2 linked regions of the Homo sapiens genome follow. The protein of the gene in region 2 purifies or fractionates together with the protein of the main gene of each other region. This does not show direct contact. Each region holds a gene or a part of one and is shown on either strand. Other genes may lie near its edges. The genes, in order: DMXL2 and WDR7.

Region 1 (7,299 bases), on a different chromosome or scaffold from region 2:
CCTGAAAACTGCTCCCAGGACCAACACCTACAACACCAGTCACTTCTCATCGCCAATGTTTTAACTGCAGTCAAAGGGAAAATGGAATTTGACACAGCTTTAGAAATTTGAAGTGTTTTAGACTGCCCTAGGAAATGTACAAAATTGTCATTAACTGATTCAATACCACTTGACTATCACCCAAAACTAAAACTTAAGAGAACGTGGAGATACCATTTTAAAAACCTATCCAAATGGCATAGATTGCTTAAAATGTTAATATCAAATGTGGGCAATGGGGTTGAGATTTGGCATCATCAAACTTCTTTTTTATTTTATATTTTTTATAATTTTTTGTTTTCAATTTTTGTTGGTACGTAGTACGTGTATACAAACTTCTGGGAATGTAAATGAGCACATTTCTGAAGGGCATTTTGGTAATACTTATCAAGACTGAAGAATTTTCATGCCTTTTGATTCAGTAATTCCACTGCTGGAAAACTAGCATGAGGAAATAATCAGGAATGCAAATATTTACATGCCAAGGTACAAGGTTATTCATTAGAGTGATAATTCAAATAGAAAAAATACCTCAGCAAAATCTATTTCAAAAACAAAGGATTGGGCAGATGAAATATAGTTTAGACACAGAATCTCAGATAGCTATTTATAGTTATGTTTTCAAAGAACATTCATAGGTTAAAGGGTAAGTGCCATGGGTAAGAATAACAGTGTATCAAGCCTAGTGTTCTAGGTTCTATAATACTAAGACGTATATTATGGGACTCTTTCCAAGATGTTGGTTTCAAAAGAAATATAGTCCACTGAAATAAGCTCTGGACTGGGATTCGCACTCCCAACTCTTCTAATAAATAGTCCTGTATCCTGGGCAGGTCACTTTTAATTCTATAGTTTCAATTTTTTAATCTGTAATACGAAGGCTGATATAAATCCTTATGTCTCAAATCAGGTGTAGCAGTATGCCTGAAGTACACAAATCCACTGTTATCAATATGGCAGATCTTCCTGAATCATCAACTTTACTTGCTGGCAAATAACTAGAACATAATGCTTACATTAAAGTAAATATAAAAACACATCGCAGAGCAAAGTTTACATAATTTTTCAAAGAAAAGACATCAAGATATTCAGGGCTACTCTGTAGACAGCCACTTTGGGTTACAACCTCAGGCATACCACATTTACCCCCTAAGCTACTACTCTAGTAAATAAATTCTAAAAAACTTAGTTAGATGAGCAAAAGTCACAGAATAGAGCTGAAGGATACATAGAAAAATGGTAAGTGGGTACTATGTGACAGAAAGATCTTAAGCCAAGTGATAGGTGTGCACGTAATGACTTACCTAATGTTTACACACAAACATGATACACCCCATCGCTCCAATATTAAGTAAAAGTTGTGCAAAGCTTCAAACAGTGAGTGAATTACCTTGATGAAGTAGCTGCACTCGGTATAAAGGAGGCAGCGATGTCAAAAGGCATGTGTGTAGGCGCATAGCTAACAAGTATCTCAAACCACACTCATCTAATGTATCTCTTCCTGTAATTTAAACAGGAAATATGTTTAAGGAAAAAAGAATGCAAGAGGCCACAAACTGATAAGCTATAAAACAAACATTAAACTTAGTCATAATTTATATAAAATACATAAGTTTTAGTGTATTCCTTCCTGAACACTTTAACGTCTTTACAAAAAATTATCTTTACAAAAAAAAATGTGACTACTAAACTCTTAAAAGAAAAATGATTTGGAGAAATACAATTAACTATTAGAATAGATAACAAGAACATTTATATTGACTCATAATAAATGAAAGACATCTGGAAATCCAATAAAAAATATATTAACTATGGTAAGTTAGGTACAACTTTTAATAATATTTTCTACATGAATTCCGATGAGATGTAATGGAAATTACATAACTGATGTGAAATCATTTGTTATATATTTAAGCAGGTAGTATTTTCTACTTTGGTTAAATTAACTGAAATATGGTACTATCAAAGATTTAAAATTTGAATACCCAGGCTAGTTAGTGTTACATGGTTAGTTTGAACCTTCACCTTGATTCTACAAATTTATTTATACAAATTAATTCCACTTAGTCAAAGTATGAAGGTATGGCAAGCGTAACCAAAACTATAGCCACTGCTGGATAAAAGCAAAGCAAAAATACAGACAGCACCTAGCCCAATAACTGACACTTTGGAAGTACTCAATGATTATAGAATCAAATAGTATTTTCCAGAAAAAAAAAAACAAAAACTTTTAAATTGCCAAAGATCAAGCCCCAGCTCTGCTTCCCATTACCTATATCCATCCATCCATCTATTTATTTAGCTAGATAGATAGCTATTAGGTTGGTGCAAAAGTATTTACAGTTTTGCCATTACTTTTGCACCAACCTAATATGTATCTATTTATTTATTTATGGACATGAGATCTCACTATGTTGCCCAAGATGGTCTAAAAGTCCTGGCCTCAAGCAATCCTCCTACCTTAACCTCCCAAAGTGCTGCCATTACAGGTGTGAGCCACCATGCTCATTCGTCCGTTTATTCATTCAACAAATCAAGCATCTATTACATGTGAGGGACTCTTCAGGTACTGGGAATTCAGCAGTGAATAAGGCAAAGTCCCTACTCTCTTGGGGATCATATTTTAGGAGGTAGAGACAAACAATAAACAAATAATATGTGGAAATTAATGCTATGAAGGGAAATAAAGCAGGACTGAGAGATAGGGAATGCTGGAGTAAGAGAGTTCTATTTCATACAGTGTGGCCAGGAAGGAACTCTCCAATAAGATGACATGCCAGCAGCAATTTGAGGAAGTAAAGGAACAAGCCATGCATGAATCTGGAAGAAGAGCATTCTAATAGAGTAGAAATGAGCATAGATCGTGTGGGGCCTTTTAGGCCACTGTAAGGCTCTTAACTTTTATTCTAAAGTGAGACAGGAAGGCACCAGTATATGTTGAGCAAAGGAGAGATTTAATGTGATTTGGTTTTAAAAGAATCACTGGTTCCTAAGCAAAGAACAGATGGAGGTAAAAAGAATAAAGCAGTTAGGAGATGACAGGGACTTGGACCAGAGTAGTAACTGCAGAGGTAATGAGAATTGATTATTGGATTCTGGATATTAATAGAACTGATAGCATTTGCCAATGAACTGGATACTGGGTATGAGAGAAAGCAGAGTCAAGAATGACTGTAAGTTGTCTCACCTGAACAAATGGAAGAACTCATTTACTTAGAATCCATTTACTGAGATGTGTAACTCATTTAATCTCTGAGCTTCAGTTTCCCACCTGTGAAATGGAGACATTCATTCCTGCCTTATTACCTCATGAATGTCCACTGTGTCCAGGATACACTATTTCTATATTGCTTAGCCAATGATACAGTTTTGTATTAGAAAGTATAAACTATTTTTTACAAATCATGCCATGCCTACTTTCTTAATGTCCCACAGTAAAAACTAATATATATTAAACACACAACACAAGCTTAAGGTTGTTCTGGGAAGAATCTCATTCAACTGCATACAACCTCATAATGGTTAAGATTTTTCTTTTCCAATTAATAGTGAGAAAATAAGTCATAGGCAAAACCCTAGAAGGTCTCTAGTTATTTTAACCTGCAGAGAAGAAAACTTTGGGGGATATACTATAAGGATGTAAATCTATATGAAGAGATATTTTCCAGCTACCTTTCCCCCACAGATCTGGAAATCATGAAATAGTTAAAAGGGTACAGGCTTTGAGTCAACAGTTTATCCACATATGAACTCCACTTCTACTCCTTAATGCCTATGTGATCTCAGATGAGTCCCTTAATTTCTTAAGGATCAGTGTCTTCATCTATAAAGTTAAACATAATAATAGCTATCTGCTAGAAGACTGTGATAATTAAATATGATAAAGTAAAGAAAGTGCCTGAAACATAGCAATTTTTCACTCCTCCAAAATATTTATTGAATTAATGAAATTCTGATCATTAATTTTCAGTTTCCTTTGCCAATGCCATCATTTACAATCAACACCATTACCCTGAACTATGTGCATAAAAGAGAATGGAATCTAGTTCCAGGAAGCAGCCAAAAATTTTCTAGTTACAGAATGAATTAGGCAAAATACGTATGACATTAACTGTATGGAAATCTCGCTGAAGAGACTTTTTGGAGAAAATTAGGTAATTGTAAAAAGTTGTTTATGGCTAGAAATGGGAAGACCAACAAGTTGAGCCCATGAGGTCCCAATAAGCCTCATGATTCCATAGTAACATTAACAAATGGGCTGTTATTATCAAAGAAAAAATCATAGGGATCAATCTGTGTTAAAAAACAAGAGACTTGGCCAGTCCATGGTGACTCATACCTATAATCCCAGCACTGTGGGAGGCCAAGGCAGGAGGACTGCTTGAGCTCAGGAATTCGAGACTAGCTGGGGCAACATAAGGAGACCTAGTCCCTACAAAAAAAATAAAAAGAAATTAGCTGGGCCCCATGGTGGTGCACACCTGTGGTCCCGGCTATTCAGGAGGCTGAGATAGGAAGATTACTTGAACCTGAGAGGTTAAGGCTACAGTGACCCATGACTGCACCGCTCAACTCCAGCTTGGGCAACAGAGCAAGACCCTGTCTCAAAAAAACAAACAAAAAACCCACCCAAACACACACAAAAAAACAAGATTATAAATCCAAAATGACACAAAGGTTTCAGTGTAAAAACTCATGAGAGAATGCACATGGATCTCACAAATCCATGCATTCATATGCCGGCCTCAACCGTCTTTTCTAACTGAGCATATTATATAATAGTAATTACCTATTAAGGAGGTCTTTTCCCTGCAAAGTTTGAAAGTTGAGACTGCAATTCAGTAAATGAGTCAGTATAGAGATAATACAAATATTTCTATTAGGTACAACTTTATAAATTTTTAGCGAGAATATTTACCTGAGCAACTCTTATCTCTGCTTTCATCAAGCTCAGTACTAGTAGTAGCCACTGTATCAGCCAAAGCTACAAGGAACATCTGCTCCAAACGGGTAAGGCCTGGTAGACTTGAGTGCATAAGATGACTTGAAAGTACCCTTGCATGTTCTTGGCCAAAGTAAGCTGGTCCATATTGAGAAAGATTTATTACTTTTGATTTGTTTTCTCTCTTTTCAGGCTCTAAATCAATATCATCCGTTGGTATATCCTGGATTTGAAACAGCTCTGAATACTGATCCTCTGGTTGACTTACTGTCTGATCTTCATAGCTCTGTGGTATCTTTGTACTTTCTTCTGAAATTCTGTAGGATGTATCTTGATCTGCAGCAAGTAATGCATATAGTGGTAGTGGAGGGATAGAATCTATCTCAGTATAATCTCGAGTACCATCTTTTCCTACGGTGACTGTTTCCTTTGCTGTACTGCCACTTACACTAATAGTTCGAGAGAGATGTCGCTTAGTTCCTTCTCCAGCATCAGGATCTCTAACTATTGCTACTTCACCTGCAATACATTTTACTAAATGAGAGAGAATGGCTTTAGCCCTTCGCACTTTCCCTAAATCCATCAATTCTAACAGCTGAGTTGGATGATATTGTGGAAGAGTAGGGGAAAGTACATGTGCAGCCTCAAATAAGCCACCATCTTGAATTACAGTTGGTGAACAAAAAACATCATCAGAAATAGCTGTTCCTTCAACAACACTTTTTCTTGCCAGCATATTAGATTTAAAGGTCGAATGATCTTGCATTGCTGCCTCTTCTGCATTAGAACTATCAGCTTCAGTGTCTCCAAATTTGACAGCATGCTTCCACTGTGCATATACATGCATTTCACAATCCATTCCTACCACCAATATCCCATCTCTTACCCAAGAGAGAGAAACAGGCAGTGAAGGAGTACCATCAACAGAAGATACCAAGTCTATAGATCTAAGAAGAACCCATCTTGACTTAACTCCTTGCTTGATACTACCACCTAGTGGTAAAGTGATGACAGCTACTCCATCCTTACTGTTGGTTTGCTCAGTCACAATTCCTGAAAGCCTTCCATACATGAAGATATTCGCACCGACTCCCACTGTAAGAATGTGGGAGCCATCTTCTTTTGATACCCAGTCCAAATGTACTAAATGTTTGATATTCGGAATAAGATATCTATCCTTGCTCAAGAGTGCATCTGACTTGCTATACACAAACAGATTACTGTCGACGCTGACCCTTGAATCAAGTACACTCCCAACCTTAACCAAATCATCAAGATGAATTGTTTGTTCTAAAACCCACTCTGATCCTCCTGTAGATTCACATTCAAATATACAAACATGCATGGAAAATTCTTTAGAAACAAAACCATTATGGTGGATAGGCTGCTTATAAGCCACTGCAAGGCGACCTGTGTATGAACAGCTAACAGCAACTGGTCTTCCCACAATGCTCACTGTACTGCTATTATCTTCTCCTTCATCATTCATCAAAGGCCATCTCTTCCAATGATAAATTTCTTTCTCATCACTTTTATTACACTCTGGGTTGGCTTCCATACAACATTTCCAGAAGCGTACTTTATTGTCAGAACAAGTTGTAACCACTAAATAAGGTGCAAGGCACACTGGATAAATTGAAGAAGAACTCAGATGGCCTTAAAAAAGAAAAAGCAAATAGTTAGTTGTAATAATAATAAAGCCACAAAATAATATGGTAGTAATCAAATTCTGGAATGTGATCAATTTAAAGTCACTATGAGCTTCTTCAGAATATCTCTGCAGTCTTCCTCTTAACTAGTATCCCACTAAATGTCCATTGGCCAACATATCTATAAAGGTCTTGAAGAGCCCATCAGTGAAATCAAGGTATGCAATAATAATCACTTAATTTGTTTTTAGGTAATTAAGTTTAAATGAGGCAACCATTTAATTAAAATAAAACTCAAAAGCACTGAAACAAGTCAGCCCTTAATGTGTTTCTATTATTTATATTTACCTTCACAACATGCCTCCTTAGAATTTCATACTATATATTTAATCATTTTCATCATGAATACTTAACTGAGCTTTACAATTTGCCTTTCAAATGCCCCTAACCTTCTCTCAAATAATCCAGACCCCAGGTGGTACACCAAATTTTGTTTCAGACCGCAAAACAGACCAATAGATCTTACCCATTTTACCAAGTTTAATTCATCCTCTCTTAGCACTGAACCAGAACCCTCTTATCTATTCCTGACTGCCAAAGACTAACAATGCACATCTGTTGTCAACTGTAAGACAAGGGGATATAGAGATTAAAGATCTGAGGTCAGAA
Region 2 (5,233 bases):
CCCTATTTTCCCTATAAGAATACATTTAAGTCATGAGATGTTAAAACATTTCCTGGGGCCCACAGTGGGCATTTAATAGGGCCCAAGATGCCTCAGACCACTCCTGGAATGTTCACCGAATTCTTACAGAAAATTATACTGTTACACGATGATTGACTCAAATCAAGCTTTTGTGTTCTTATCTGAAATAATTAAGAGACAAGAAGTACATTCACTACTTACACATAACCCTCTATGAGCAGTAAGGACCTATTTTATTATTCTTGATTTTTCTGAAAACCAATTATACCCTTTACCTGAGGGATTCAAATTCGACTCCAAACTGAGCGTGAAATGCAATGAACTTGATGATCTCAGCCTAGCTCCCGAGAGGCAGCCAACCCATGCCATCCAATCTGACAAGATATGATTTGGTGCCATTACCAGTCTATTTGGGAGCATGTAGAGTAGAGATAAAGCAACAGGCATGCAACGCCTTTCCCAAACCACAGAGAGTGCCAGTGAGTTTCTGGAGGGAGAGCTTACCTCTGCACTTCTGCTCTACTGTCCTCTGGGAATAAGTTGCCTTTCCCAAGCCAGCTCTCCAGGGAAATGAATGATTAGAAGCAGCAGGGCTAGCGGAGCATACGGATTTCAACTGAGGATGTTTAAGATGAGTGAACACTGGAAAAGGTAATATTGTGAGAAAAACAGTCTTCAATACAATTGTTTTATTTAACACACATATGTACACAGGAACATTCAGCACACATAGAGTCTATTAAGTGGAATCATTAAGAAATGTCTGGAGAGGCAGACATTTTAATTCACTCGCTGTACACAGGGAGTTCAATCATCACATTTTCATACAGGTGTCACGTCATGTCATCTTTTGCTTGTAAATTACCAATGAAGCCACATATGTCTCTACATATACAAGGACAGGTCCAAATACAGTGCCAGTGAAATCAATAAAACATTAAAGGTGTACGCTGGGATGACAATGCAGAGTTTACCTCAGTGCTGAGAAATCTAAGCTGGGATGAAGTTTGGGACTGTGGCTATTAAAATAGCCAAGGAGAGATTTATGTTAACAAGAATGCAGATATTAGTTTAGTAGTTAGAGATGACCGTCTAATCATCAAACATCGTCCACCCCAGGGTTTTGCAGCCATAGCTTTCTACTGGCCTTGGTTGCCTGTGCAGACGGAATACGTGAAAGGCCTACCCACGCTTGTGGCCCAGGGCTATTGCTCCTCTGGGCCCCCTGGCTTTGTTCTCAACCTTCGTGGCGGGGGGAGCCATCCGTGTGTTTGCGGCAGGCTGCCTACCACTCTCACACCTCTTTCCTGACACACAGAACATTTTTGTTAAAGAAAATGCTAAGGTATACATTTACCTCATCATTCCAAATAGAGATGTAGTCTACAATAAATTAATTTCCATTTAAGTTCATAAAGTAAACATATGTTGGGTATAGAGAAGACTCTGGACCCACTGGAAAACAAAGTGAGCCTTTTACCTTACATTTCTCTAGCTATGCCAAACACAACAGCACGTTCACCAAACAAATAAAGTCTAAACTGTATAGGTCTTTGTTTCTTCCTTGGAAACTACATATATAATCTTTATAAATACAATGTACATGCATGTGCCTAAATTCACTTTTGAAAGAATACCCAACTCTAAAACCAAGGAACAGTATAGATTTGCCGTCAATGGAAATAACATCATATCATTATGAAAGAGATGATCTAATGGTCTTAATTTCTTAATATGCTCTTTAAAAATCTGTTTCAGTGAAATAACCAATGTTTGTTCCTAGACTTTGATCCTACTTTTTTGTATATCAGATAAACTCTGACAACCTAAACTTTTAAGACTAAATTCTCCCATTATCATTTTGGTTCCTTTGTAAACTTCACATATTTTCTCTGAATTTAACAAATAATTTTCTATTTTTGCATGTAATAAATGATTTTGCCCAACTAACCAACCAATCAACAATTAGGCAACCAAACAACCCCTCACAAGTATATACAGATCAAGGTTTGTTAGAAACAATTCATACAAAATATAATTCTATTTTTTTCATTATTATGAGCTAGAACCAGCACAATCTGACATAAGAAGAAAGTGGTCTAGTTAAAGCTTACTTAGAAGCATAATGAACACCCTCATTGCAATGTTTGCTCAAATAAATCGAGAGCCCACATATTTTTATATACACTCCTGAACATTTGTGCCATAGTTATTACTTTTCCAGAATACTTGTTTAAAAGAAATACCTTATTAGCTTTCCTTTAGTTGATCAGTAGTAGTTTGAAGGCTGAATTATAATAATTTCATAACTGACATATGCCACACATATGGGAACTACAGGATTGCAAGTTTTCCGGGGGAAAGGGGTAAGCTCTTTCTTCAACAGGATCTGTAGCAGTAGATAGGAGAGTCTTCATTTTCGGTACACGCTATGCTTCTGAACTTGGCTCTTTATCACAAAAGTCCCTTCAAGAGATTAGTTACAGTGACTGGATAATTACATTAACTAGATCATAGGGAGTGATTATTTTTATTTTAAACTACTAAATAGACTATCATTTAAGCAAGAGATGAGCACTTCAGAAGGCTAAGTGTCTGGAAAACTATTTTCTACAAGGAAAATATTTTTGTGTACATAATTAATCATGAATCTCAAATTGGTTAGCTGTTGATAAAGAAGGTGGTAGCTAAACCCTAGGAAATTGGATTGAGTAATTTCCTAGCAATCACCAGAAGAAAAGAACATGTAAACACAGAATCTTTTTGGTAAACAATATTTTAGGTAATTCAAAGGGCAATAATTTCAATCGTGAGGACTGCCACATGACCTCAACACCCAGTGTCAGAACGGCCAGATTCAAGCAGCACTTCAGAGGTGCGGTTGAGATGGCTAAAAATGCTGATCTGGGCTGGGAGTGCAATCACAGTGTTTATTGATTTTTGTGCTTCTGTTGCACCAAGCAACAAGAGCGTTCCCAGGAACCACTGGCTTTCCCCTGCCATCTCTGGCAGGGAAAAACTACCTGGTGACAGGATGGCCACATCCTGCAGAGCATGTGTGCGTGCCTCTGAATCGACAGATGGCACGAGCGGGTTCTGCCCCTGAGAAGCATGCACAAGTGACAAGACCCGGCCGTGCCACTGGATGGCACTGGGGTGGGCAGGCCCCTGGGAACAATCTGGTGTGAGGAAGGACAGAGCAACATCGGCTTGGATAATTTAGAGAACTAAAACGCAGTCACGGCGGCAGGCAGCAGCATTAGACCATGAAGCGGTGCTCCTTCCCGTCATGGGCCATGAGGATGACGTTGCGGTTGGAAGTCCAGATGAGCCGGGCCAGCTTGAGGGCATTGTGGGAGCCGGGGGACGCGGGCTGCACAGGGGGCACCTGGTAGGTTTTAATGCAGCGCAGCTGAGGTGCCGAGTTCAGCATGCCGATGCTTCCCAGCAGTGACGTGTTCATCTGGAGGGACAGGAGAGCACATGTGTCACTTGAACAGCCCTCTCCCTTTCCCTATCACAGAGACTGGGTCGATCTCTCCTGGCTACTTTCCCCTCCATCATGGTTATTCTCCTTCACCTAAGCTTGTTCTTAACCTCTCAAAAGTTCCTTTCAGTGTGCTTGGAATTGTTCCGATGCTGTTATGGTAAATGCAGAAATCTAGAGGAATTTTATAGGGGTAGAACCTGACAAAAGGAGAGTCCATGGATCTTTAGGAAGAGGGCTAAATTATACCTCTTAATAAAATGGTTCATTTAGACAACACAGATATTTGGAAATTGTGGATATTTAAAACTGAAGACTTTCATGTTCTTTACCACAATGCTAACTGCACTCACTCCCTGAAGGATGAGTCAGCGAAGACAAGTTTTGGGATTTGTAATTAGTTCAAGAAAAGGAAGCAAAGTTAAGCAGTAGATAGAGTGACAATTGGATCAAATAAAGCTCAAGACTCCCTTCCACCCCCATTTCCCACCTACTAATACCTTCACTCTTCACTTGCTTTTTAAAAACTCGCTTTCTGGAAAGCTCTTGCTTATTATAAAGTGCAGAACCAGAATCAATTTCATCTCAACACTATGTCTGTGCCTCACTGTTTTGCTATCATACTAAGGAGAGTCTGCTGTTAATATTTTATTGACAATACCTTTTTATCAATTGATAACTTCTGCTTTTTGGCAGTTTTTCTGGATTTAAATTTTAGGTTTTCTTAATCCAGCCACATAAATGAAAAACAACATGGAAATTATGAATCATGAACAACTATGCATTCAGGTTGAAGTACTAAATACTGAATGGTAGCTGTCTAAGTGAACTGTTTCCTAAGCAACTGAGTCTGAAGATTTCTTTAGATTCTAAATATTACTTAAAATATCTTCAATAGCATTATGTGTGCTATTATAATATCACATGGAAAGAATACTGAAAATCTGGAAAGAAGCCTTGGAAATAACACTTTTTCTTTGTACTAATTTTCATTTCCAATGCTTCTCTCCAGTATAACCTCCATCTCGATGTAAGATTCTAGAGATTTGCATGAAGCATGCAGATTATGATCCAACATCTACAAATGGTTGATCCATGAAACTCTGGCAAATCCTAGGACATTTAAGATGCGTTATCACTGACATCATCCCCTGCATGTGGATCAGTGCAAAACACAAGCCATTCCTTTTTCTAGCCCTTCTCAGCAGCAGGATGGTGTCAGAGGGCGTAAATCATGGCATCTCTAGCAGAGTGTGTGCAGGCTCCACTGACATTTTCACAATTTAAATCATCTTGAGTAATAACCCTTTTAAGATGACTAATGTTACTGATTTTCCTGCATTAATAATAGCGCTGAACACAACACAGAGGTGAAAAAAAATCACTAGTGTACGAGGTCACATTTTAAAACCAAATGTATGGTTATTGTTAACTCTTTCTGTTAAAGTTCGGTTCCTGTTTCCAGCCAGGCAGTTCCTTACTGTCACCCTTTCAGAAGCGTGTTTCTTTGCTTCCTTCTCTCCTTTTCCCAAAAACTTCACAGAAGATAAAAATCAATGCCTTATTGCTTTCTTGGATGTTCCCAAATAGTTAAAATATAAATAATGATGATGAGCTTAATTTGATAGATCCAAATGACACAGAAGATTGCTGGTTAACATTAACTGGCATCAACAGGCGTAGTGTGTTTTAGAAAAAATCTAATTTCTCAGTTGATAAATAACT

Evidence for each region.
Region 1: the proteins of WDR7 (region 2) and DMXL2 purify together in Homo sapiens (affinity purification with western blotting; 2 studies listed by BioGRID and IntAct, with this or other methods). This does not show direct contact.

What each region holds. Positions count from the first base shown.
Region 1 is NC_000015.10:51,493,595-51,500,893, forward strand, and holds part of DMXL2 (dmX-like protein 2), read right to left. Parts: intron 6,638-7,299; coding exon 4,958-6,637; intron 4,871-4,957; coding exon of another isoform or gene 4,785-4,870; exon of another isoform or gene 4,643-4,784; intron 1,541-4,642; coding exon 1,430-1,540; intron 1-1,429. UniProt on the Homo sapiens protein: May serve as a scaffold protein for MADD and RAB3GA on synaptic vesicles. Plays a role in the brain as a key controller of neuronal and endocrine homeostatic processes.
Region 2 is NC_000018.10:57,025,255-57,030,487, reverse strand, and holds the end of WDR7 (WD repeat-containing protein 7), read right to left. Parts: intron 3,485-5,233; coding exon 3,281-3,484; 3' UTR 696-3,280; downstream 1-695.